Homo sapiens: one gene and its partner. The protein of the gene in region 1 interacts with the protein of each later gene in a pairwise test. Each region holds a gene or a part of one and is shown on either strand. Other genes may lie near its edges.

Region 1 (16,637 bases):
CAGCCAGGTCACTTGCCTCAGGTTAGCTGGCTAGTGTTGAGCAGAATTAGACAGGAATGCAGTCAGTTTGATTCTAGAGCCCAGTCTCTTAACCACGCTGCTATGCCGCCTCTCTTACATGCTGGGAAAGCTGGGTTTTTCACTCCGAGCTCCCAACACAGAGGCTGTTCCAGAACTTTTCAGGTGCTGAGCCTAGGTGAACACCCAAGACCAGGGAGGTCTGTAGTTTCCTAGGGTTGGGGCAGAACCCCCAACAATGAAGACCTAGATCTGAAACCTCTTATCAAGGAAATGGTGTCTGAGAGCTGCTCTGGTTAGTTGTAGAATGAAAGCACAGAACAATTGACTATAATTGGGATGGATAACTATTTGCATTTAGAAAATACTCTGAGCAGTTAAAACATGCTATGTACTAGATTCATGCAAAGGATTTCATACCACTTGACAGGTAGAAAGTTAAGCCCATTTTGAATGGGCACTTCAAAGTTTGGGGAGTGGAAAGCTATGCAGTTTCTTTTAAAGAGAGTTTCTTCTTTTCAAGCCTTTGTCTGAATCAGTACCGTCCAATGGGACTATAATGCAAGCTACATATTAATTTTACATTTTTTAATAGCCAGATTTTTTTAAAAAGTGCCAAGATATAGATGAAATTAATGTTGACACTGTTTTTGACCAATTTATACATTTTATTTACTCAGTATATCTAAATATTATTTCAACATGAATTAACATGTGATTTCAGCATTTAACAATTATTGTGACATCTTACATGGTTTTTTGGACTAAGTCTTTGTAACCTGAAGTACATTTTAGACTTACCGCATATCTCAATTAGAATGCTAAATTTTCATTGGTGATACTTGATGTATATTTAGATTTCATAAAATTTATAATGAAAAGGTAGATTTAATATACCTAGATTCTTCCAAATGGACTTTTAAAAATCTTTAAAATAACAGAATTAAGTATCCATTTTTAAATCATATATTAATTAAAATTTAATATAATTTGATATTCCTTGGTCACACTAGACACATTTCAAGTGCTCAATAGCCACAGCTGGCTGTGGCCACTGTAATGAACCACACAAGTCTAAACAGACTGCTCAGGGAGGTATGTTCTCCTTCTTCAGTGCTTTGTTTTTTTATTTTTATCATCCCTCCCCTGAAAATTAGGATTTTTGCTTTCTCTCTCTTATTTTTAATCTGTTGCCTGGAGAGCCCACCGTTTGAACCCCATCATTTAATGCTAGAAGTCTTTGCGGGAAGTGGGATACTGAACACCCCTGCTCAAGACATGTGGGCAGGTCTGGAATTTCCTAGTTACCAGGCTTGTTTGAAGGCCCAACACACAGCTTTTAAGCTGTGAATTTTGGCCTGTTTATAAATCCAAGAAAACATTAGTTTGTAACATCACTGAAAGAAATCACAAGAGATTATAGAGCAGTGACCTATGCCTATTGCAAACTTTAAAGATCAATAATTTTTTGCCATCCTTCTCAAAAGAGGCAGGCACACCTCCTCAGGTATGTGGTGATGTCAGGAAGTGTTTGAAGACACAGAATAAACAGGACACCTTTCTTCAAGCCTTTAATGTTGGGGGGAGGCAGGGTAAGGACGAGCTTATTTTCTCATGAAAATAAATGTATTATGAGGTAGAATGGAAAATATCAGTTTTCAGATAAAACATGGGTCTTCAAAGAATTTCTACACCTGTGAATTTTTCTCAAGCCCCAGCCACTCCCCGAACTACTAGGGATATGAATTTATAGGCCTGTTTTATTAGGGGTGGTTTGGTGGAAAAACTTAGACATGGGTTGATTTATACTCATTTTATTTAAATCTAATTTAATTTTATCCCTAAGTGATATAGCTAGAGTAACTCAAATGCTTTTTTAAAGTTTTTTTAATTTTTAAATTTTTGTGGGTACATAGTAGGTGTATATATTTTTGGGTTACATGAGATATTTTTATATAGGCATGCAGTGCATAATAATCACACCAGGGTAAATGGGGTATCCATCACCCCAAGCATTTATCCTTTGTGTTACAGACAATCTAGTTATACTCTTTTAGTTATTTTTAAACGTGCAATTAAATTATTTTTAGCTATAGTCACCCTGTTGTGCTAGCAAATAACTAGGTCATATTCATTCTTTCTATTTTTTGTACCCCAAGTGCTTTTTAGCATTTAAAACCTCTTGGTCCCAACTTTCTCCACCATGAACACACATATTTATTTACTTACACCTACCTGGTATCTGAACTGTGGAAAGGGGAGAAGTTTCCTTGAAAGAGTGTCTTGCAGTAATAGTGTGGAGAGGTGTGGGGTCATTACAGGCTGAAGTTATATGGATATTTATGAGAAGATGGGATTTGATGTGTGTGTTAAAGCATAGCTGGATGGAATTCAATGGGAAAAAGAGAAACCATTCTAGGAGTGGTCAGTGGAAAGGACAGAAGCCTAGAAATGGGAAGGAGGATGGAAAGTACAATAAAAAGGCCTACTAATGCAGAAAAGATGACCAGGCAGTAGAGGCCTCCAGAATGCTAGGCCATCAATTCAACACTACATAAGTAGAATTCCAGGAAAAATTATCCAGTGTTACCATGCTAGGTAATTTGTACACAGAAAGATAAATTTGGAGACTGTCATTATCCATTTATTTTTCATTAGTTCTTTATCCAGCCCTTAGCATATATGTGCTAGACACTACTCTGGACCCTGGGATATAACATGAGAACAAAGAGAGAAAAATCCCTATAGTGGATCTAGACATGAGATCTCAAAATAATGTGGTATTATACCTCCCTGGGGACTAGAAAGCTTATATAGGAATAACTGACTAATTCAGACTAATTCCAGAGGCCAGTTAATGTGAGTCATCATGTAGCCAAGAACTCAGAAATCAGTCACTAAGTCTGCATACTAAAGCTTATCCCATAACTGATGAGAGCCCTCCAGTCTCTATTGTTTTATTTGTATCGTTGCAGTGACCTTAATTATCTGATCCCAGTTGATAGAGAAGATTAGAAGCAAAAAAAAGAAGAAGGAGCTGTTAATAGCGAGTATATACTGGAAACAAATACTTGTTTATTGATAGAAGAGATGCTGAAAAACTATTCACATCAAAGATATGAATTCAATAAGCATAGCAATCTGGGGCCATTTGATTTTGGGGCAAACAGCCAAATATAGTAGTTCCTCCTTATCTGTTGGGGATATATTCCAAGACCCCCAGAGGATGCCCGAAACCATGGATAGTGCCTACCCCTATATATACTATGTTTGTTCCTATATGATAACGTTTAATTTCTAAATTAGGCACAGTAATATATTAACAGTAATTAATAAAATATAACAGTTATAACAATATACTTTAATAATAGTTATATGAATGTGGTCTCTCTCTCAAAATACCTCACTGTACTATACCACGGCTAACTGAAACCACAGAAAGTTAAAACCATAGATAAGGGGGAACTATTGTGTGCTTCAGTCACTCCTGAGGGCTTCACTGTGGAAACACAGTGTAAGATAATACCATTTTTCAACAACTACAGAATTAATGGATTTAAGCATTGATCATCAAAGGATGCAAATACTATAAAAAGAGACAAATATGTGCCTCATAATGGAAGAATACAACCTCACCTATGAATTATTTTTGCTACCCCCTAAAAAAAATTAAATCTGAATCTGATCAAGCTTCCAGAAAAGCCAATTTATAGGAAATACAAAAGACAGAGGAACATGTTTGTAGTTGACAAAATTCAGACCCTGAATAACTCTGCAGACACAATGCCCCATTTCTTCAACAAGTAAGTTGCAAGAAATAGTGAGGAAGTGGAGGGGAATCTACAGAATAAAACATTTTTTAAAGCTAAATTAATTGCAATGTGTGGATCCTATTTGGATCCCAATTTAGACAAAAAGACTATAAAGAAAATCCTAGGACATCCTAAACAATTGTAAATTGGAACATTGACACACTATTTGATGAAATAAAAGAGTTGTTATTCATTTTAAAACTAAAATAGTAATAAGTAGTCATAACAAGGACCCTGATTGTTCAAAACAAATATTAAACTGTGGTCAGTAGGTATGTTTAGGAAGGTAGAAATATGTGTTACTCCTCTCAGAGAGGTTTCCATACCCGGTAATTAAAATGTAATAACTGTTGAAAGGAATCTGTATGATATAGTACAAAAAGCACTTGGAATTAGACCAAATTGTTAAACAGTGCAGTGGGAAGTTGCTTGACATCCACTTAAAATCCTATTAAGTAAAATGTCTAGCATAGGCAGGGAGGAAGCGTGATGCATGTCCATTAAATGTCTGTGTTCATCCTCTTTCCTCTCTGTAAAAAAAAAAAAAAAAAAAAAAGAATTTGCAAGCTTCAGCTGAGAAGAAGAAAAATCCAAGTAGGTCAAGTGATAGAAATTTCTTTCAGAAGGTCTATTTCAAGCCTCAATTAATCAGCATCCCTATTGTCCACTGCAGCTGACCTTTCTAAGACAAGAATCTGATTATGTCATTTATTGTGCTTAAAAGCATTTAGAGGAAAGTTCAGACTTGCAAGCATAGCTTACTGCATGGGGGCTTCAGGTTTGGCCTCCTGTCTCTCAGTCTCATCTACCAGTCTGCACCCCATGCCTACCTCACTCCTTTGGAGCTACTCACCACTCCCCAGAACAGCATGCTCTGCCCCTCCGCTCTGCACATGCTGCTCCTCTCACACATTCCCCTTTCCCTCCATCTGATGAATTCCTGCTTTTCTTTTTTCTGAGAAGGCTCCCTGGACCTCCCAGGACTAAAGTGCCTTTCCTAAGTGCTACCAGTAGCACCCTGTACTTCGCAAGTAGGAGACTCAAATCACTGGCTGTGGCTCCCACCAGACTTTGAGTTTCTGGAGGGCTGAGCCCGGGACATCTTCAGCCTTGATCCTCAGCAAAGGCAAAGTGCCTAGCACATAGTAGGTACTCAGTGACTGGTGGATCAATACTATTAGAAATCGAGAGAATGATTGGCACGTGTTTGATCTTTCCTGTCCTTTGCCCAGATCTGCTTTCTTGGAAGCTGCCCTGGCCAGTAATCTGATTCAGGCTCCAAGAAGAGGAAACTTCCTTCTCCCATTTGATGTTTTCTGTATCACCTTCCTTTTAAATTTTGGGCTGGGGATTGTTGATTATTGCTGTTTTTCCATTGTGCTTCCAAAGTTCAAATGTCTTATATTTCTCAATTTTTATCCACTAAACTGTTCAGAAGTCTTTGAAACAGGCCGGGCGTGTTGGCTCATGCCTGTAATCCCAGCAATTTGGAAGGCTGAGGCAGGCGGATCATGAAGTCAGGAGATCGAGACCATCCTGGCTAACACAGTGAAACCCTGTCTCTACTAAAAATACAAAAAATTAGCCAGGCGAGATGGCGGGCCCCTGTAGTTCCAGCTTCTGGGGAGGCTGAGGCAGGAGAATTGCTTGAACCCAGGAGGCAGAGGTTGCAGTGAGCCGAGATCGCGCCACTGCACTCCAGCCTGGGCAACAGAGTGAGACTCCGTCTCAAAAAAAAAAAAAGTCTTTGGAACATTTTCATGTGTCAGCTTGAAGTTGGCTTTGGGTATCAACACTTGTTATTTCATTCAAGCTCTTTGATGCCAACCAATGTTACATGGCCCATATCGAGTAGAAATAGCCTCATCATCTCTTAGGCCATGTGACCCATGTGAATGGTCCCTTTTAGCAGGCACCTCAGGAGTAGGAGGTTTGAAAGCACTTCCTCAGAGGGAGTAAGTGTGGGCTTGTCGTGGAGCACTCTCTTGGCTGTCCAGAAGCTTACATTCCAATCCTGGCTCTCTCTAACAAATCTGGGTAAATCCTTTTACTTCTCTGTATCTGTTCCTGGAGAAGTGAAGAATTTGTACCAGCTGCTCAACCGGAGGTTCATGAAGATGTCAAACCACAGAATACAAACAAGACACCTTCCTGGTCGCTCAGTGTACCCAAAGATTTTGGAGTGAGAAGATATTTTTATATGAAAATGAACACAAATATTTTTCAGTAGAATGTAAAATCGAGGTGAATTTTCAAATGAAACCCAAAGATTTTACTGAAAGAATTTGAGGAACATTGAGTTCTGTTAAGTTCCCTTCCTGTGATAACTTTCCATCACTGTTTTAGCCTCTAGCTCTGTCTGTCTGTCATCTAGATAACCCTGCTGAGTAGAACATTCCAGTCCTCAACAATGCTGGGTAAATAAAGCATGGCTATGATTTTAAAGCATGTATTATTTCCAAGAAGACACAGAATTGCCAACTAGGCTAATATACATACAGCCAAGCAGAGGCCCTTTGGAATCTGCTTTTAAAAATACCAAGAACCGTTTATAATTAATATATCTTAAGTAACTACATGCAGCAAACTGAGATTCTAGAAAGGCTTTTTTTCTAAATATTCTGTTTAGCTTAAACCAGGCCTTATTATCAAGAGTTCAGAATTTGTGGCATCTAAATTAATGAGCTTTTAACCTTGTAGAAACCTTGCCAGTTTGATTTATCCAAAACAAAATCATTTATTTGAAAAGAGCATTCCAGGGTATCATCTTCCTCATCTTCTGTAAGGATTCTATTTCTGACTATGCGAAGCTGATTTCAGTGCCTGTATCATTTACCTCCCTACCACAGTGAATCATTGAAAATTATATGGTAAGGATTCAGTTCTTTTCCTCACAGTTCATTATAGCTGTTTCTAATTATTGGTAGGTTTTCAGTGTATGTTTGTCTAAAGTTCTATCAATTAATAAATGGATCTGCAGAAAGCCAGTTAGTTTAAGGGGCAAGTAGATGGAGGGTGCTTAAAATCACACCCCCTGCTAAACATTTTGCTCTCCTTATTTAAAATAAAATCACAGATATTTTCTGAGAAGGAATAACAATTTGAGTGAAATAGCAGATGAGAAGTTGCCAATTTTAAAGTGAAAGATATTAAATATTTCTGGATTCTTACAGGATTCCACTTAGAAAAATCTAGCAAACCTGGATTTCAGCATCTTTTGCTTGACTTTAAGAGAAAAATAACACGATCAAATTAAAATTATACAGCTGTCAGCGTTCAAGTCAGGCAGTTCACAATAGACAAGAAAAATTGCCTTCCTAATACATATTGGTATAATTAAGCCATATGGAAGTCTCTGAATTCTCTCCTCCAGTTAGAAAATGGAGTGTTGGTTGCCACTGTTCTTTGTCATGAAGTGAACTAGGTAGTCTTTTAAAAATACACTTGTAAAACCAACAGATAGGCCATCCCATGGCATCTTCTGAGCATGTAGCTTTTCCATTCCACCAGAAATATAATTTGCCTCCTGAGGTTGCTGATTTTTATTTTTCTTATTTTCACAAGAAATAACTATTTCTTGAAAAACAAAGCTGAATATCTTAAAGCAAACCCTTCCTAAAGAAAAAAAAGTGAAACAGAGCTCTTCAATTTTATTTGAAAGATGCATACTCTCTGATGATGCCATTTCTATTCCAAGAGTTCAGAAGAAACCGATTTTTTTATTGTTTCCCTAATACTAAGTATAATTGCATAATTTGTTCACTTTTAATTTGGAAAGAGCGATCTTCGATGTGTTAGAATCATTTCCAGTCATGTCAAACTTTACTAAAATCTTGGGAAATGATATAAAACACTCAACCTCTCTATTTCTATATCAACAACTTCCTTTGTTGTTTTAGGAGAAACTTACTTTTTTTCCTTTTGAGGTTAAAAATAATAAGTTATTACAAATGTTCATATGATCCTTTTCTTAGGCCCAATTTTAGGAATATATAGTCAGAAGAAATGACTGGAACAGGCTTTCTTATATCAATCTTGCTTAAAGGAATGGGAGAAGGAAAATATTTTTCTTAGAAATAGATTATCAGAATAAAATACCAAAAGGACCAAGGAATAGCTCAGTTTAAAAATATGATTTTAAAGCGTTGTTGCTATTACATAAAGATTCTCATACTATTACTCAGATTCCAATTTTCATTTTAAAATTATGCTTTTAATCTGGTTGCATAATGCCTCACACTTAGGCCAACAAATACTAGTTAAGTTTTATTGAAATTTAATTCATTTCTTTTATGGCATGCATCTTCTGATATTTTCAATGTAAGCTGTCTGCTTATAGCCATCATATCTAAAATGGAGAACACATTTGTGTTCTCACAGAATGTATGCTTGTTCTGAAAGATGATGTGGTTACAGTAACCTCCCTTGAAAACAGTTAGTAGGTATTTAAAATGTCTTACACAGAATATTACAGTAAACCTATTTTTTTTCATGGAGTTTTGGTCAGTTTCCTGTCTGGTAAAAAAAAAGTTAATAGTGTTAGCTTTTGGGATTTTGGGAGGTTTGTTTTTGGCCTAGAAAAAAAATTATGTTGTGTAAATCCTAAATGCGGTAGAATGAAAAAATATACTCGTATTAAGCAGAAATGTGTGTTGTTTCTCATGGAAAAATAAGCAGCTATTTTGTATCTGAGGTACATCTTTGTCTTTGAGAAAGTATATTTTATTCTGATGTTGTGAGACTGAGAAATACTGACGTGGCTCTCTTTGATCTTTGTCTCTCAGTGTGGCTGTTACCAGGTCCAGAGATGTGCCTTCCTTTGGGCCTCCCATTCCTAAAGGGGTCACTTTCCCTAAGTCAAATGTGTTCAGGGACTTCCTTTTGGCGAAAGTGATTAATGCAGAAAATGCTGCTCATAAATCGGAGAAGTTTCGGGCCATGGCAACTCGGACCCGCCAGGAATACCTGAAAGATCTGGCAGAAAAGAATGTCACCAACACCCCTATCGACCCTTCTGGCAAGTTTCCGTTCATCTCTCTGGCTTCCAAGAAGAAGGAAAAGTCTAAGCCATATCCAGGAGCCGAGCTCAGCAGCATGGGGGCCATTGTATGGGCAGTCCGGGCTGAAGACTACAACAAGGCCATGGAACTAGACTGCCTTTTAGGGATCTCCAATGAGTTCATTGTGCTCATTGAACAGGAAACAAAGAGCGTGGTCTTCAATTGTTCCTGTAGAGATGTGATAGGGTGGACTTCAACTGACACCAGCCTCAAAATCTTCTATGAACGAGGAGAATGTGTTTCAGTGGGTAGTTTTATTAACATTGAGGAGATCAAAGAGATTGTCAAAAGGTTGCAGGTGAGTCTCTCCTTCCTCTTCCTTACATGCAGTTTCTCTTTCATAAAGTTTTCAATACAGACTAGAGCCAAGTTACTGAACCTTGTGCTCTGTTATTAGCTCCTCTGAAAACTCCCTTGATGTGTGAAGCAAACAGAGTTTATCTCATGCTTGTGTTTTCCATGGATGTTTCGGAAAAGTAGAACAAATTGGGGAAGACACATTTACTCTGTGTGTGTGTGTGTGTGTGTGTGTGTGTGTGTGTGTGTGTGCGTTCATGTTCAAAACCCATTTGCATGTGACCTGTTCCCTGGTGCTGCAGTCCAGTCATCTGGTGGTGGTGTTGAAAAGAATTGCTTGAGTATCTGCTGCCTTGAATTTTACAAAGGCTAAATGAGTAGCAGTATATGGTTTCTATTTACTGCCAGCTCCCTGTAGGTCTCTGGTAGAGGTTTCCTTGTAACTTCAGGGAAGCCGTTGAGCTTTTTGGATGCAACAAGTATATTCCTTTTGGCCTAATGAATAGGAGATTAGTGAAGAGGAAATAACCAGACTGCTCTTCAGCTGGCAATAAGGTATTCAGAACTAACCCTGCTTGCAATGATTTTCCAGTTCCATGTCCACCACTTAATACCCTATTGCTTTAAACCACAGTATCTTTTATTTCCTTGTCTAGTTTGTTTCAAAAGGCTGTGAATCGGTGGAGATGACTCTGCGAAGAAATGGGCTAGGACAGCTTGGCTTCCATGTCAACTATGAGGGCATTGTGGCGGATGTGGAGCCCTACGGTTATGCCTGGCAGGCAGGGCTGAGGCAGGGCAGTCGCCTGGTGGAGATCTGCAAGGTGGCGGTAGCCACTCTGAGCCATGAGCAGATGATCGACCTCCTGAGAACATCTGTCACGGTGAAGGTTGTCATCATTCCCCCGCATGATGACTGCACCCCGCGGAGGTAGGTCTGAGGAGACAGCTGTGGGCCTGAGACTCGAGTGCAGGGTTTGTGTACCATGTAGAACATCTCTTAGCAGGTAGTGGAGTAGGGTGTTGTGAAGAACAATAGGTTACATGTGATGCTGAATGTTTCATCCATGGAGTCTGACTCAGGACGAAGCTCCCTTTCAGTGTGTGGTGACAGCAGCTGGAAAGAGTGACTAAATGGGACCATTCCCAGGATTTACATCACTGGATTTATAAAGTTGCCATGACAGATAGAGAAGTCTGGTAATATCTATCTTAAGAATTTTCCACTGGGAGCTGAGAAACATTGAACACATTGAACATTAAAAGACACTCAACATCTCAAATTGTCAGATTGCTTTTCTTCTATGTTCCATGATGCTCTTATTCTCTTCTCTCTCCTAATTGCTGCCCAAAACTCAGCAATTGTTTGGACCTTTGCTGTCTCAGTCTGGCAGCTGCTTTCCTAACTGTATCTGCATGTGCTAGGGTTTGGCTTCAGGTGAGCTGCCCCTGCTCATGGTGCTTTGGCATTTTGGTTCCTAGTCTTTTCCAGAAGGGAAAACCTAAGAGCTCCCTGCCCCACCCAACCCCCCACAGCTCCTGCCAAGCCAGCAGCACTGTTGAAAATTTAATTTCTCTGTCTCTGGGGAGGTTTATTGGTGGAAGAAATTTAATCAACTGTTTATTTTCTCCTTTGGACATGCACATGCTATTTTTGCTAGTTTTTAAGATCTCTCTTTTTAGTTTATGCCATTATTTTCTAAGAATTTCTCTTAAGCTTTGGCAATTGATTCTTAGGCTTTCTAAAGCCAAGACAGTGTTCTGTGTCCTATTTTGCCACTAAGATGACCAGTCCTACACCTGAGCTCTCATGGATTTGTGAATATCAGATGGTAGAAAGTTAATGGTTATGATAGGCTATTTGTGTCTTTTAAAAAGTAAAGAGCAGCAAATATATATGTGTGTGTGTGTGCGTGTGTGTGTTTTATATACTTTGCTCAGGATAGTATTTCCTAATACTGCTTACCTCCTAGATGGCCTAGGGATTATGTATATATGTCAAAATATAGAAAAATTCCTTTGTCTGATAGTTTGAAGAACTTCCTTTTGGATGACTGCATTTCCCTGGAAATCAAAATATGAACTTTTAATTTCACCTGTTTTGGAGAGGAGTAAATATTCAGAAACTGCCCTACCCACATACCCTGCCTTAGTTAACCAGGTCTAATGAACCTTATTAGCCTTTTCTGGTTTCCCCAAGCATATCATCATTAAATGTTAAGTAATGTGCTGAACTGTGATTTAAAAAATAATGTGAGGTGGCTCAGAAAGGCAGTGGGGTTCTTGCTTATGACAGTCTCCAGTCTTGCTGCATTCCTTGTCTTGTCTCTTTCTCTGCTGTCTCTCCTTCAAATTGTCTACTTTATTGCTTCTGAACAGACAATTATAAATGGGAGAAGATAGCCAAGCTTTGTAAATTGTCAACCTTAATTACCTACAGTAAAGAGTTACAGATGTTAGTCTAAGGACCGTCTACTGAAATATGGAGCCCTTGACCTTATGATGCCATCTTGCCCACTCAGAAGTCTTTCCCTTGTATCTAGGCTCCCAGGTTTATATGCGGGAAAGGAGAGGGAAATGGGTTTGTGTGACTGTGGGTGGGATGAGACAACAGTACAGACATCGAAATTGGAAATAGCTGTTACTAGAAAGATGGATAAGAGGCCTGATCCTGGATAGATGGAGCCATGATAGGAGGAATACTAGACTAGATATATTGTGGTGTGTCAGTGAAAATAACTAATATACTGAGTTTTTTACCTTAATATGCCAGGCCCTGAAAAAAGCACTTTTTTATGGGTTAGTGCATTTAATTCTCATAACAACCCTCTCTTGTGATAGTGTTAGTAGCATTCCTGTTTTTTTTTTGTTTTTTTTTGTTTTTTTTTTTTTAGACGGAGTCTCGCTCTGTCGCCCAGGCTGGAGTGCAGTGGCGGGGTCTCGGCTCACTGCAAGCTCCGCCTCCCGGGTTCACGCCATTCTCCTGCCTCAGCCTCCCAAGTAGCTGGGACTACAGGCGCCCGCCACTACGCCCGGCTAATTTTTTGTATTTTTAGTAGAGACGGGGTTTCACCGTTTTAGCCGGGATGGTCTCGATCTCCTGACCTCGTGATCCGCCCGCCTCGGCCTCCCAAAGTGCTGGGATTACAGGCGTGAGCCACCGCGCCCGGCCGCATTCCTGTTTTAAAAGAAACCGGGACTCAAAGGTTAGTAACTTGCTAAGCTCATCTGACAAATTTAGGTCTAACATCAGAGTCCAGGCTCTGAACTGCCACGTTGTGTGCTTAGAGCACAGATCCTTTCCTTATACACTAGAATCAGCAGTGATGTGCTGGTGAGTTGGCTTTCTGCTGGGGTGAAGAAAACTTTATTTGTAGTATTTGCTGATTTCTATGGTGCAGATACTCCCACTGTGGCTGGTTCCAAGCTACCGATGTGATGTCACTGCAGGCAGCATTGGGGTAGATGGGATGATTACCAGCTCCAGCACACCAGGGAGTGAATGAGCTGTCACACCGCTGTGACGCTCTCAGGCCTTCCCGGAGGAGCCAGTGGAGCTGCCAGTGACATGTCACTTGGGTGCCAGGAGGGGAGGCTGGGGGAAGGATTAGTGCACTGCACAGCCCCACCAGCCTGGAGGGAGACACAGGGCCCCTTTCACTACAGTTTCCATCTGAAAAGCCATACAGTTTCCATCTGAAAAGCCATACAGTTTCCATCTGAAAAGCCATACAGTTTCCATCTGAAAAGTCAGACCTGGGCAGGGCAGGTGGGAAATGCCTTGATGCCTTTGGAGGGCTGAAAGCCTGCTCCTTTCTCCTTTCTTTAGAGATAACTTCAAAGGGAACAGCTGAAGCATTAACACCTTGTTACAATTTTCAACAAAATAGAATAATGCTCTTGTGTCATTTTTTTCTTCTCCTCCGCACTTCACACTCCCACTGCTGTTTTTGTAGCAACTAATTACTCTGTTCTTTGAATAGTCATTCTCTTCTTTGTCAGCTGGGACTTCACCACCAGTCACTGCAGCTGCAGCGAGAGGCAGGACAGGCCTCCTTGAGGCAAGCTGCTCCTCTACCCCTCAGCCTGGTGGTTCTTAGGGTCGCCAGGACCCAGAGAGGGACACAAGCAAGGGGGTGCGGGAGGTGATGACTGTATGTAATACAAACACCCCCAGGATCTAATACAAACACAAATGGATTTGTGTGTTCACATGGGAGAGTCATTCATTTTGAAAATGCAGCTTTTAAAATATATATAATAGTTCAACAACAAAAAAGTAGTACTTAAATAACATGTAAAAGCCTGTAATCCCAACAGTTTGGGAGGCCGAGGCTGGTGAATCATTTGAGGTCAGGAGTTTGAGACCAGCCTGAGCAACATGGTGAGGCTGGTCTCAAACTCCTGACCTCAAATGATTCACCAGCCTTCTCTACTAAAAATACAAAAAAAATTAGGGGGGCGTGCTGGCACATGCCTGTAGTCTCAGCTACTTGGGGGCTGAGGTAGGAGAATCACTTGACCCAGGAGGCAGAGGTTGCAATGAGCTGAGATCGTGCCATTGCACTCCAGCCTGGGCGACGGAGGTAGACTCCATCTCAAAAAAATAAGAATAAATAAATAAAATAACATGTAAAACAAGGCTCTCTTCCCTGTTCTTGGAAAATATGCAGACCCCTTATGAATCGTTTCCAAACTACAATTTTTTTAAGAGAAGAAAGGACAGGGACAGTATAGCAAACTTTCTGAGCCCCTACTAGGTGCCAGGCATTTTCCTTTTTTTTTTTTTTTTAAGTATATATACTTTAAGTTCTAGGATACATGTGTGCAACGTGCAGGTTTGTTACATATGTATACATGTGCCATGTTGGTGTGCTGCACCCATTAACTCATCATTTACATTAGGTATATCTCCTAATGCTATCCCTCCCCCCTCCCCCCACCCCATGACAGGCCCCAGTGTGTGCTGTTCCCCTTCCTGTGTCCAAGTGTTCTCATTATTCAGTTCCCACCTATGAGTAAGAACATGTGGTGTTTGGTTTTTTTGTCCTTGTGATAGTTTGCTGAGAATGATGGTTTCCAGCATCTTCTATGTCCCTACAAAGGACATTAATTCATCCTTTTTTACGGCTGCATAGTATTCCATGGTGTACATGTGCCACATTTTCTTAATCCAGTCTATCATTGGTGGACATTTGGGTTGGTTCCAAGTCTTGCTATTGTGAATAGTGCCGCAATAAACATATGTGTGCATGTGTCTTTATAGCAGCATGATTTATAATCCTTTGGGTGTATACCCAGTAATGGGATGTCTGGGAAATGGTATTTCTAGTTCTAGATCCTTGAGGAACCACCACACTGACTTCCACAATGGTTGAACTAGTTTACACTCCCACCAACAGTGTAAAAGTGTTCCTATTTCTCCACATCCTCTCCAGCAGCTGTTGTTTCCTCATTTTTTAATGATCGCCATTCTAACTGGTGTGAGATGGTATTTCATTGTGGTTTTGATTTGCATTTCTCTGATGGCCAGTGATGATGAGCATTTTTTCATGTGTCTGTTGGCTGCATAAATGTCTTCTTTTGCGAAGTGTCTGTTCATATCCTTTGCCAAATTTTGATGGGGTTGTTTGATTTTTTCTTGTAAATTTGTTTAAGTTCTTTGTAGATTCTGGATGTTAGCCCTTTGTCAGATGGGTAGATTGTAAAAATGTTCTCCCATTCTGTAGGTTGCCTGTTCACTCTGATAGTAGTTTATTTTGGTGTGCAGAAGCTCTTTAGTTTAATTAGATCCCATTTGTCTATTTTGGCTTTTGTTGCCATTACTTTTGGTGTTTTAGTCATGAAGTCCTTGCCCTTGCGTATGTCCTGAATGGTATTGCCTAGGTTTTCTTCTAGGGTTTTTATGGTTTTGGGTCTAACATTTAGGTCTTTAATCCATCTTGAATTAATTTTTGTATAAGGTGTAAGGAAGGGATCCAGTTTCAGCTTCCTACATATGGCTAGCCAGTTTTCCCAGCATCATTTATTAAATAGGGAATCCTGTGCCCATTTCTAGTTTTTGTCAAGTTTGTCAAAGATCAGATGGTTGTAGATGTGTGGTATTATTTCTGAGGGCTCTGTTCTGTTCTGTTGGTCTATACCTCTATTTTGGTACCAGTACCATGCTGTTTTGGTTACTGTAGCCTTGTAGTATAGTTTGAAGTCAAATAGCGTGATGCCTCCAGCTTTGTTCTTTTTGCATAGGATTGTCTTGGCAATGTGGGCTCTTTTTTTGGTTCCATATGAACTTGTATTTTGTATCCTGAGACTTTGCTGAAGTTGCTTATCAGCTTAAGGAGATTTGGGGCTGAGACGATGGGGTTTTCTAAATATACAATCATGTCATCTGCAAACAGGGACAATTTGACTTCCTCTTTTCCTAATTGAATACCCTTTATTTCTTTCTCCTGCCTGATTGCCCCGGCCAGAACTTCCAACGCTATGTTGAATAAGAGTGGTGAGAGAGGGCATCCCTGTCTTGTGCCAGTTTTCAAAGGGAATGCTTCCAGTTTTTGCCCATTCAGTATGATAATGGCTATGGGTTTGTCATAAATAGCTCTTATTATTTTGAGATAAGTCCCATCAATACATAATTTATTGAGAGTTTTTAGCATGAAGGGCTGTTGAATTTTGTCAGAGGCCTTTTCTGCATCTATTGAGATAATCATGTGGTTTTTGTCTTTCATTCTGTTTATATGCTGGATTACATTTATTGATTTGCATATGTTGAACCAGCCTTGCATCCCAGGGATGAAGCCCACTTGATCATGGTGGATAAGCTTTTTGATGTGCTGCTGGATTCGGTTTGCCAGTATTTTATTGAGGATTTTTGCACTGATGTTCATCAGGGATATTGGTCTAAAATTCTTCTTTTTTGTTGTGTCTCTGCCCGGCTTTGGTATCAGGATGATGCTGGCCTCATAAAATGAGTTAGGGAGGATTCCCTCTTTTTCTATTGATTGGAAGTTTCAGAAGGAATGGTACCAGCTCCTCCTTGTACCTCTGGTAGAATTCGGCTGTGAATCCGTCTGGTCCTGGACTTTTCTTGGTGGTAGGCTATTAATTATTGCCTCAATTTCAGAGCCTGTTATTGGTCTATTCAGGGATTCAACTTCTTCCTGGTTTAGTCTTGGGAGAAGAGAAGTTTAGAGAAAAAAGAGTAAAAAAAAATGAACAAAGCCTCCAAGAAATATGGGACTATGTGAAAAGACCAAATCTACGTCTGATTGGTGTACCTGAAAGTGACGGGGAGAATGGAACCAAGTTGGAAAACACTCTTCAGGATATTATCCTGGAGAACTTCCCCAACCTAGCAAGGCAGGCCAACATTCATATTCAGGAAATACAGAGAACGCCACAAAGATACTCCTCGAGAAGAGCAACTCCAAGACACATAATTGTCAGATTC
Region 2 (12,191 bases), on another chromosome or scaffold:
GCCAGAAGCTGTTAGATGTGGAAATCGCAACAGCTCCTCTTCTTTTCTCTCTGCCTCTGCAGGGCCAAGCTAAGATGCCAGCACATCAATTGGTTGTGTGTTGGTGATGCATTTTGGTTTTATCTTGTCTTTTTTAAGGACTCAGACATCTGCAGAGAATTAAAGTCAAAATTAAGGTCTAAAGTCAATATAGTATTATATAAATCATTATTCAGCTCATAACACAAGTGTAGACCTGGTCCTATTAGTAAGGCAAAGAGTTAACCTTCTTGTATGGAGCTTTTGTTATCCTCACTACAAGTAAGTCCTAACATTTTCTAATAGTTAATATGACACTTTTACAGTCAGCCATGACACCCTTGTAGTTTATTATAACTGTTAGTTGGTAACCCGAAGTTTTAAAGAGAAATTTGATTATGGTTATCTTTTTCTTTTCGCAAGATAGTTTAATTTTTAAAATATGTGAGGGGAGAACAAATGCTTTTAAGGATTTCTACCTATGTTGTGTGCTTGTTCTGTGGACAGTAAAAATACAACCTATTCAAATCTCAGTTAAGAGATTTTACAATTGGCAAATTAGATTAAACTGTTGGCAGGAAGCTGCCAGCTTAGACTTGTATAGCATTCCTGCCATTTTATTTTTCTTAGAAGGAATATTGATGGTTTCTTGATAGTCTCTTGCAAAATTTCACACAAGTATAGTTCTCCTTTATATTAATGAATAATCTGTTGTAAAAGAAAACCACTAATTGGAGCCAGATTTATGTTTTTGGCATTGTCTCAATTGCCCTAATATTAACTTCTCTAAAGGTGCATAAAGTATTTAATATTTTGCCTAAAAGTGTAGATCTAACTCCTCCTGAAGTCTGTATCTTGCTGTCAGCCCTCACAATTTGTGTGGTCAGAAGAGCTGTTGGCATGTATGTCATCTCAGCTGCAGTGGCTCCAGGATGCTAGAATTTAAAACCGTACCTTTGAATCACTCACTATACTATTAAATCACTTCTCTTTATTCAACTCTAATCTGACAGGTTCTTGAAATGGTACAGAAATCATAATCACTGATTTTTTTCCTAAGTCATTTTTTAACCAAAAAATTACTCTTACCTTTTGAAAAAAATTACAAATGTATAATCTGTTCATGTCAAGGAAGTGCATTATTTTTCTCACTATTTCTTATATTCCCCACCTCTTGCAAACACACACACTGCAATATATATACACCATACACACATGCACACACACACCCCAAATTTATTGTCTGGATGTAGAAGCTCACTACCCAATTAACACTTTTTTTCCCTTACAAGCTGAAACTAGCAGTAATTTATGGCACCGCATTGTGCTGCTGCTTCTCCATGGGGGGAGCTGAGAGCATTTCTCTTCAGTACAGAGCAATCCCCACAGGTGTCAGCTGAGAGCCACCAAGCTAGGGTATCCCACTTCAAGTTCCTCCCAGATGAAATTGATGACTGGTTCTCTCTCTTTCAACACACACACACACACACACACACACACACACACACAGTGTGGGTGTGCGCACATACACACTGCCCACTAGCAAAAGGAAATAAAAATCTCAGTTGCTTATTTATTATGGCTGATACATTCCACACCATCAGCAATCACCAGTCATATCTTGTCTTCTCCTATATCAAACCCGAGGAAAGAGGCTCGTCAAATCATCTGAAATAGCATATTATTCAGTATACTTTCATATTTTAAGTGGACTCAGGAATCTGCTAAATTTTCAGTCATTTGCAAAATAAATCTGGAATATCATGATCAAGAGTAGTGCTTTGAACCCTTTCTCAAGCTCATGTGTTAGAAAACCTTTTTTTTTTTCTTGTGTGTGTAACTCTGTTGGAGCCAATTATTGTATTAATTAATGTTACATTGATCACATAACCTTTTTTCTCCCGTCCCTCCTGCCCTCCTCCACTAATGCACACCTTGACAATTTTAAGGGATGGTGGAAGAGAGAAAAACCGTAGAGCAATATATATGTACATATAGATATATATACATTCTTATCACAGGGAGGTTAACTGGTTTTCCCAGTTCTTGGAGGAAGCTCATTGTATGTGAGCGAGTATCTGTATTTATATGGAGAAAAGAGGATTCTCTCTAGGTGCCAGAAAGACCTGGCCAGTTCACAAATTAGAGGATGAAATAAAGGGATCTGAAAAACATCCTTACTGCAGCCAAAAGAAGAAGCGCTCTAATTCAAAAGCAGACTAACAGCATCATTAATCTTTTCTTTCATTTCTAGAATCAAATTCATCCCAAGTCACTAGGAGGATCAATACAGTACGCTCATCGGCTGCAGTTGCATATTTTAATGTTTCTGATATCACACACACATACACACCTACACCTTTCCATGCACCCTTCAATATATATATATATCTTCATAAAGAACATGAAATCTCTGAGAGAAATTTTAGAAGTGCTTATTATTTCACCCCTGGCTTTTGCAAAGTCTCTCAATACCAATGCACAGCCAAAATTCTCTCTGGCTTTCCCGCCCAGTCTCTAAGCTCCATCTCTAATACCAGTGCAGTTTCTTGGAGCTCGGGGTCTACTGCACAAATTAACGATGGGCACAGTGTGGGGCTGATGAGGTAGGGAAGGAAATATATGGAGAGATATTTTATTGCTTTGATATCTAGCCTGTCTCTTATTTTCTTTCTTTTGCTAATACATCACTGCATTCAGCCTTTAAGTTACTACCCCAGTTCCACCATCTCTTCTTGCCATCTATTTAAAAGGCTTCATGCAAAACAACCAAGATCTACACTCCTCCACCCTCCCACCACCCATCTTTCCCTGTGTATTTGTGGCAGATCCTGGCTCAGTTACAATGGGGAAAGATATCCTTCTTCAGCTTGCCTCGCCCCATCCCCTCCCCCCAACCCAAATTGAGCTTCTTTACCTGCCCGGTTATTCCCCTCAGCTCGAGCCAGAGCCTGAAGCATGCATCGGTCAAAGCGAATTTCCTGAGGTCTATGGATAAGGCGACTGCTGCTGCCTTTTCAGAGGCGTCAGGCTTGAGCGTCTATCTCCAGGAGTGCGGGAGGGGAGAACAGGCAACGGAGGGGAGCAGGAGGAGGAGGAGGAGGAGAAGGAGGAGGAGGGGGAGGAGAGGGAAAGAGCTGGGAAGGAAAAGGCGGTGGTGGAGCCTGAGAAGGCTGGGTTACGTGACGCCGGGTGCTGTCCTTCTGAAAGAGAAGGGCGGAGCTGAGCTCTCCGCAGTACCATGGAGAGCGGCGGGCCCGTCCTTTGGCTGGGGAATGGGTGGGCTCGGCCCGTGGTCGCAGCCCCTCCAGGTCTGGATGCTGCGGAGCGAGGTGCTTTTACCTTTGCATCGTCCCCTTGCAGGGGGAGCCTGATCCTGGGGGCGGGGACCTTCCGCAAGCGCTTCTAACTTGTCACCACCCTCTCTTCCCCATCGGAAAGAAAGAAAGAGAGAGAGAGAGAGAGAGAGAGAGAGAGAGAGAGAGAGAGAACGAACGAACACGAACCAGAGAACCACGTAGCCTACTGAGCATGCCCAGGCCCCTGCTAGACCCATGGAAAGCTGTATGGAGATTCCACTTCTCCGGGGTTTGGTAGTGATTGGGCGGGGATACCTGAGAGGGTGCCAGGAAAGGGTCCAGCAGTCAAAGAGAAGGGGCCAAGGAGTCGATAATTATGATGAGCTCTGGCTTTACTTGTGCACCTTGGTCTCCTGCTCGGAACCCTTGAAAAGAAGCTGCAGCTTTTCGAGGAATGCAGGGGCAAGCAAGACTCACACAGGCACTGGCATTCTTCTAGATCCGATGTCCCTTGCCCCACCCCTTACTGTGGCTCTGCCTTGGGTAATCACAACAAATCTTCATGACTTGCCTAGGCTGTGCCAAAAAGATGTAAAAGGAACCCACCAGGGTAAGATGCCAACTTGCAGACGACGATCAACTGTGTCTGACAAGGTGCTTTTTACTGCAGCCTGTCGTCATTCTCCAGCCTTCTGTGCTCTGTCTTGAACCAAGTTTTCTACCTGTTTAACTCTTCCCTCCGTCTCCTCCTCCCTTTTGCAGCTGGTAAAACCTGGTGAAAGTAAAACTGGGTGTGAGGCTCTAACCATGCAACTGGGCATGCCCAATAGGCATTGCTGGGTTTGGTGAGAAAGGGGTTAAATCTAAGGGAGCTTACAGATTAGGTGGTAGAGGAGTTCGGGGTCTGTGGCTTTAAATTATGGTTTGCACCCTATGGACATTTAAATTCCTATTCCTGTATATTCCTAGCCTGGGTTAGTTTTGGAGCAGATACAGACATTTTTATTGCAACGCCACAGACCTAATAGTCTGAACCTCAAATACTGTAAGGCAAGACTATTTTTGGCCTCCAGGCCCTATAGAGCAAGAATTTAAGAACTAGATAAATTTGGGAACATCAAAATAATATATATTACAATTACAATATGTATATTCTTCCAAAAAACTAGAACTCATTCCTATGATAAGCCGATTTATACTTTCACTACTTTTGTAAAAGGGTCTAAATAACCTGAAGGCGGGTATCACAGGTTTTAATATGTTTATCGCCCTTAGAGAGGCAGTTTTGTCAAGTGGTTACATGTTTGGGAAATAGATTGTCTGAGCTTCAATTCAATCTCTGCCATTTATTAGTTGTAACCTCAGCAAGATACTTAATCTTATGCTGCCTCAGTCACCTCATCTGTAAAATGGATATAATAATAGCTCCCTCTTCATGTGTTTGATGTTGTGAAGATGAAATGAATAAATAAACATAACATATTTGGAATTGTGGATTCCAAATTGTGGAATTTTGGCTATATTTATCAACTACAACCCACTCTGTGTTCTGTTTGACTCAATGGAAGGAATTTCTCTGAAACTCGAATTCTTTGACTATAAAATAGAGGTATTAGTCATTGTCAGCTTATTCCATAAGATTGCTTTGGGAATGTAATGAAATAATAGCTGTTAACATGATTCTTAAAACAAAAATTTAATTTTAAATGATGTAAAACTAAGACTCAGAAAATTACTTATCTAAATTATTCATTCAGTGAACTTGAAACAAAAAAACAGTCTAGTTAATTCAGGGCCTTTTTCAATTTTTCCTACCATTAGGTTATAGGACAAATAGTACAGAAGGTACACCGCGATGTGTTTAGTATAGAGCTAAAGCTTATTGCAAAAGTAAGTGGAATGGACAGCCCACTTTCAAAAATCAAGTCTAACTTGGTTCCATGATGCTCTTAAGATCTGGTGTGAACATGCATCAGTGAACATTATGGTAGTGCTAGAGGCACTCTTAAGAGTCAAAGCACTGCCTTTTACCTGGATTCATAAAAACTCATTATTTACCACCAGTGCATGTGATCTGAACAATTTCCTACTTTATTTCATTTCGTCTTTGTGAATTTTTATTTTATCTTTAATTGGGCTACACAGTGTTTCCACTGAATCAAGGTTTTCCTTGAGATGTCTTCTGTGGTGTTTTGATTTAAAAAAAATGTTGACATTCTTATGCTGCATGTGTGAATTTTCAGATTAAAAAGACCAGTGTTCCCACATCTCTTCACCACTGCCTCCCTGACACACACACACAAACTATATAAACTGAAGGAATAGATGATGTATTGGAGTAATCCCCTTTGCAATCAGGTTTAAGGTACTTACTGTATGTAGTCCAAGGAAGTGGACAGCCCCAGGATCTTTTTTTTTTCAGTAAATATGCATAGAGAAAAGTATCAGTTTGTAGCTTAGAATGCAAATATCACAACATAATTTAATGATAAAAGTTGTTAATTTATTTTAAAGTATGAGTTTTTCTGTTGTTTCTCCATAAATTACTTCAACTCTCTAAGTGGCAGTTTTGTCATCAGTAAAATAAAGATAATGGCATCTCCATTTATATGACTTGGTGGAGATAATGTCAACATTGAATGTTAATTTTGTGCCTACTCCTCGCCAAACAGTGCTCCAAGTGCTTTACTTACATTAACTTATTCTAACCTCACAGCAACTCTAAGAGGTAGGTTCTAGGATTTCACTCATTTTACCAATGAGAAAAAGTGAAGCATAGAGAGATTAGTCCAGATAGTCAAAGTCTAGTAAGCAAGCAACAGTGTGAGGAAAAATCCAAACTCAATTCTGTAATCTTAACCCCCTTGCTACACTGACTTTGAACGGATCATCAGATATACGTAGCAAAGTGCTTGGCAGAATGCAGATGCCCGTAATTGTTCATTCCTTTTCCTTTCTAAGACTTTCATCAAGAGGAGTCTAGGAAACTAAACAGTCAACTCCAGAATTTTGCCATAACATTCCTTAATGACTAATACTGTATGAAATATATGATATTCATGTACTTTGTTACATATTATAGGTGACGTGTTTTCAATGTTACTACCTTTTTTGTTTGTTTCTGGGCAAGATGTGAGGTGATTCCTGTAGATCTGAATTTGAAGCAATCTAACATTTGTAAGAACAATCTAGTATTTTTCTAGAAGGTGGGAAGTAGGATTAATTCCTCCTGAATCACCTTAGGGAATCTACTAATTTTAGGCTACAGAAATATGTTAAGGATTTCAACTCCTGCCCCTAGCTACCACTCAGAACAAATGAGGTAACTGCGAAATCAAGGTGCTTGTTTATGATTATGTCTGATTGGGAGAATTTGTGGCAACCCAAATATGGAAACATAAATAATATCTCATGCCATAAACTGGTAAACATTTTGCATCAATGAAAATGGAAATGCATGCTCACCTAAAGCAAGTATATTTCCATAGGTTATTAATATTAATGAGAATTCTAACATGGAGACTAATGCTACACTAAAAATAAATGAAACTAAGTAGTAAGATTTTTTTTGACTGAGAAACGAATGCAGCAGAGATGCTCTGTGTTTATTGCTGCAATCAGACCCTGTGCTTTAACATTAGGAAATCAATGTAAACACCTACTTTCTCAATTAACATTAAGGTAAAGTGGAAGCTTTGAGATACCTATGAATTCCAATATTGATATCAGTTATGAAGGGTGCTTTACTGATATAAGGGGTAGAAGAAGAAACACATGGTAACAATGAGGAAAAATACCAGTTGATATACATTAAATGCATTTTCACTTAAGATGAGAAACAACTCAAAAAAAACAGTAAGATTTATCGCTGAGGGGATTTTCTATTTACTGTCCTATAGATGATCAAAATGAAGCCACTTTTACTAAAATAATCACAGTATCAGGAAAATATTACGTGCTAATTCAACTAAATTTCAGATTGCTATCAAATTTCTCTAACCAATTACATTATCAGTGCTGCACAATTGGAATTCTATTGTTTAGCTCATGACTTTATTTTAATAATATAATCCATTTTTTGTTTGCAGTTAAATGTCTCTAGTTTTCTTTATATGAACCAATTAGAGTTTTCTGGTTACAAAAGTTTAAGAATAGATATTGAACATGCTGCCATATAAAATTTATTTTACAACTAGATGAATTTAAAAATGCAAGGAAATGTAATCAAGTCTAGGGTTTGAGACTCAGCTATAAAATGGAATAAACAGACTAGGATTTACATGTACAAAAAGACACATAATTTCCTATTAAGCTTACTAAGTAACTTTCAGGAGAAATAAGCAAACTCAGTATGTTAAATACTTTCTTACTACTTGAAAAAATCTTAAACATAGTAAAATTAGGCTACTTTTCCTTGAGTATGTAAATTTTCTGTAATCAGAAGGTAGAATGTGATTTAAAATGGCTGCAAATCATTAATGTAATGATAATTATTAAGGTATCAAGCAGCAGTAGAGAAAGCACGTAGATAGGTCCTTGAGAACAGTAGTTAAGTTTTGAACGATGCACCTGCTAGAAAGGCTTCAATGTGGAAACCCTGCAGCGTGTTTGATGGGCAGTGTTTTTAAATCTAGGGCAGCACTTACACCTGAGTGTGTTCCTCTGTGTTTACTTCCACCCCTCCTTCCCCCACAATGAGGAAAAATCTTTCTGAGGAAGAATAGCTGTCGCTAGATGAAGTCTGTGAAAAGTCCCTGCCAGAGGGTTTATGTTTCCTCGATCAGTGATTTAGTTGCACACTTCAGCCTGTCATTATTACCCCCTCTAATGACTTATTTCTCTTCTTGTGAACAGAACTTTCTTCCCCACAACCTAACTCTACACTCAAGCCTGCCATTCTCAACTGCTAGGCTCCAGAAAAGGAATTATCTCATTCATCACAATGTGGCTTCCAATTTATTTTTATTGGGTGCCTGCAACTAGTTAATCTGTTTAATTTAGCCAGTGCTATTTAATATTCCTTACTATGACTTTTAAGAAAAGAGCAAGGGATTTGTGATGAGTTATGGATGTCAGTGAAATTCAAGAGTCTTATTATAATATCTTTGCTTCTTTTTAGCCTATTTCTGCCCCCTAGAAATCTGTGGAATCAATTTTCTGTGATGGCATCTCGAAACATTTTGTGGTTTGCTTTTAAAACACATCCTATTTGATTTTATGTTGGGCTTATGGATTTTTAAAAATATTCAATTCTTACCAGTTTTCCAGCTACTGCCCTCCTCCTACTTAATATAGCTTTAAACCTCATTTTTTTTTCAGAGTTTTCTTCTCATTTTTGTTTGCCTTTCTCATCCATTTGTCCTACTTACATTTTTTCATTTAATACTACAGACACCCACAGAGATAGATATCTTAAGAATACAGAAAGTTGTAGATATTTTATTGTAACTTCACAAATTAGAGCAATAATACCCGCATTTTATGTAAAAAAAAAAAAATCTTAGGTTTTTGAAGAGACTCGTGAAGCAGAATAGGGAAGAGTTTTATTTTGATAAGAGTTTTTCTCTTGCTGAGGAAAGAAGATCAGTGAAATAGGAATAAACTACATCCTTAAGTATATGCTTGATGTACACATCCCATTGAATGAAGTTATAGTACAGTAGAGGCACTTTAATTTTCTCTAGAACAAGGAGAGCAGACTGCAATGCTTAACAGTGTCTGGTGTTTGACATACATGAGTGAGGTAGGCAAACTGGGAAAACAATGAGGATTGGCAGACAGTGTGGACACCTAAAATGTTCATACTTCTCTAAAAATGGCGTTCACTCTGCGGCCGCAACAGCTTGTGACCATGTGAGTCTGGTGTTGCCAGATCCTACGATTTTACAAGAGCAGCTGGAAATCTGAAATGTTATGTAAAATCTTCTGATTTTAAAATCTTGGCTTATTAAAAAATAATCACCACTACTACCACAATACTGTGCAGGACAAAATAGACTTCTCTGCTGGTTGGAAATGGCACACAGCCTACCAGTTTGTTCCCTTCACAGCTTTGTATACACGTACACATGCAAACTCATAATCATGGGTGGTTATTCTCTCTAGTAAACATTTCAAAAGATTGATTTACATGTTCTAAATTCAGCCAAGCACATAGGATAGATAAAACAGTACAGTTGCTATTAAAAGTTGACCTTTAGAACATGAAGATAATTGTTTTGAGTAGTTTGGTATGTTACAAGAAGCACTGAATTCTGAGTTATATGTGTTTCTAGCTGCAGCCTTATTACTTGCTTTGTATGGCAACAGAGACAAATCTCTTAGCTTCTCCTATAGTAGTACCTGCATGATATATGTTGGGAGTTGAATTGTCCCCCTAAAAGATATGTTGAAGTCTTCACCTTATCTATGAATGTGACTATTTGGAAATAGGGTCTTTGCAGGTGTAATCAAATTAAGATAAGGTCATACTGGATTAGGGTGTGCCCTAAATCCAGTGACAGGCATCTTTAAAAGGAGAGACACATTTGAAAACACAGAGGAGATATAAGAAAGAGAATCATGAAGACAAAGACAAATTGCAGTGATATAACTATATAGCCAAGAAATGCCAGGTAATGCCAGCAACCAGCAGACTACTCAAAGAGAGGCATGGAACAGATTTTTCCTAGGGAAAGAACCAACCTGGCTGACACCTTGATTTTAGCCTTCTAGCCTCCAGAATTCCGAGAGAATAAATGTTTTATTGTTATAAAAACCACCCAGTTATATTTTAAACCACCCAATTTGTGATAGTTTATGATAAACCTGGGAAACTAGTACAGGATGCATGATAGAGGATGGAAAAATATAGTTATGCATAATACTATTATAAGAGACCATTTGGCAGATGATTTTACATATATATTTCTTTATCCATTACAACCTTGAAAATTAGACATTCTCTCTCTCTCTCTCACACACACACACACACACACACACACACACACACACACACACAGGCTTGCTCTCACTTTCATTCTCTTTGTCTTTCAACCAACTATGGCTTGGAGATGCTACCCATCTTGCCTTCAAACTTGTAGACCGCTCCTGATAGAGTGAGGACCAAATCTTTCTGAAACTAAAGTCCATATTCTTGTTCACTGTACCATTCTATTGTGGTACTTTTCAAATGTAGAAAACTATAAATATAAGATACAGACATTATTCTAGAGTCTACTTTTTGAGAAATTGAATATAAGAAGAGAAATCACAATAGAGACAGCAAGAATACGTCACCCTAAACAGATACATCTCGATACATTTTAGGTAGAAATAAATCTTGGATAGTGCGGGACAATTCTCCAGGAAGCTTTTAATGCACTGAGTTCCCCCTGCCTTTTTCTTCTAGTTCTCAAGAATAATGACAGAATTTGCTGAGAATGCAATATCTTGAAATAGAGAGGAATGCGTGAAATAGCCCAGGCCTTGGCTCCTGTTCCCCCTAGGAAATATAACATCTTCAGTTATGAATTAACTGCCTGGGACAGCCCAGGCTTTGCTCCTCTCTCTCCAGGAAGTAGGACGTCCTTCAAATTGTTGCCCAGTGAGTTCCATGGCCCTTTAGATATATAACCCAGGGCGGACTGCCTTTTAAGGTCTGTCAGCTGTGGGGCAAGTGGGCCACTCACAGCCAAGGCTCCATCCATTCTAGGCAGTTTTCTTGGGGCTTGGGGGACCTGTTTACAATGGATCCCAGGCATCTGTTGTCCCTTGCTTCCGATTTGTAAATAATAAATCTCCATCATGTAACTTGTTGTTTATGAGTGTGCTCTGTCTCATCAAACTCAGACAAGTTGGTAACCAGTGCAAAGTGAACCTGCTTTCCAAATAGGATGTTAGGATAAGAAAAAAGGAATATTCTAGATTTCTAGTGATTTAATACTGGCAGTATGTTTAAATAAACGTATTTATTATAAAATAACATAATACAAGACAGAAAACGTAAGTCTTGATCTTGATGAATTTCAAAAGATGAACATACCCTTATGACTTTCACCAAGATAAAATATTAGAATATTAAACTCCTATTCCTTCTAGTCATTTTCTATTCTCTCCTCCATAAATTTAATTAATAACTTGATTTCAAACTACCAAAACTAATTTTGCTTGTTTTTGCTATCTAGATAAGTGGTATAATTCAGTATGTTCTACTCTGTGTCCGCCTTCTTTTGTTCAACTTTATGTTTGTGAAATCCATCCATGTTGCATGCAGCAGTGATTTTGTTCATTGTCAATGTTGAATTCAGTTTTATAAATTTACCAATATTTATCTAGTCAATTGTTGATAAACATTTGTATTGTTTTCAGTATTGGACTCTTACAAATAATGTCTTATAAACATTGTACATGTTATTTGTTGCAAATATGTACACAATTCCACTGGGTTCATGCCTAGGAATGGAATTGCTGGGTCATGGGTTAATTTTAGTAGTTGTTGACAAAGAGATTTCCAAAGTTGTCACTATTTATACACTGAAAAACAGTGTGTGAGAATTTCTCTCTTTCTGGCCAAAAAAATTTATCAATCATTTTAATTTTAGATATTCTAGTTGGTTTCACTGCTATCTCATTAACATTTTATTTTTTAATTTCCAGATGACCAATTATGTTAGGTACCTAATTCATGTATTTATAGGCCGTTAGGATATCCTCTTTTAAAAAGGGTCTATTCAAGTCTTTTGCCCATTTTTAAATAATTTGATTACTTGTCTTTTAAAATCAATTGTAGGGACTCTTTACATTTTCCGGGTATGATTGCTTGTGCAGTTATATGTATTAAAATATTTCCCCCATCTGTAATTAACCTTTGTTCCTTCTTCATTTTTTTGATAA

The links.
Region 2: the proteins of SIPA1L1 (region 1) and NRXN1 interact in a two-hybrid assay, tested with the Homo sapiens proteins (one study listed by BioGRID).

Annotation. Positions count from the first base shown.
Region 1 is NC_000014.9:71,662,505-71,679,141, forward strand, and holds part of SIPA1L1 (signal-induced proliferation-associated 1-like protein 1), read left to right. Parts: intron 1-8,614; coding exon 8,615-9,188; intron 9,189-9,843; coding exon 9,844-10,118; intron 10,119-16,637.
Region 2 is NC_000002.12:51,029,046-51,041,236, forward strand, and holds the start of NRXN1 (neurexin-1 isoform alpha4 precursor), read right to left. Parts: upstream 3,088-12,191; 5' UTR 2,936-3,087; intron 150-2,935; 5' UTR 1-149.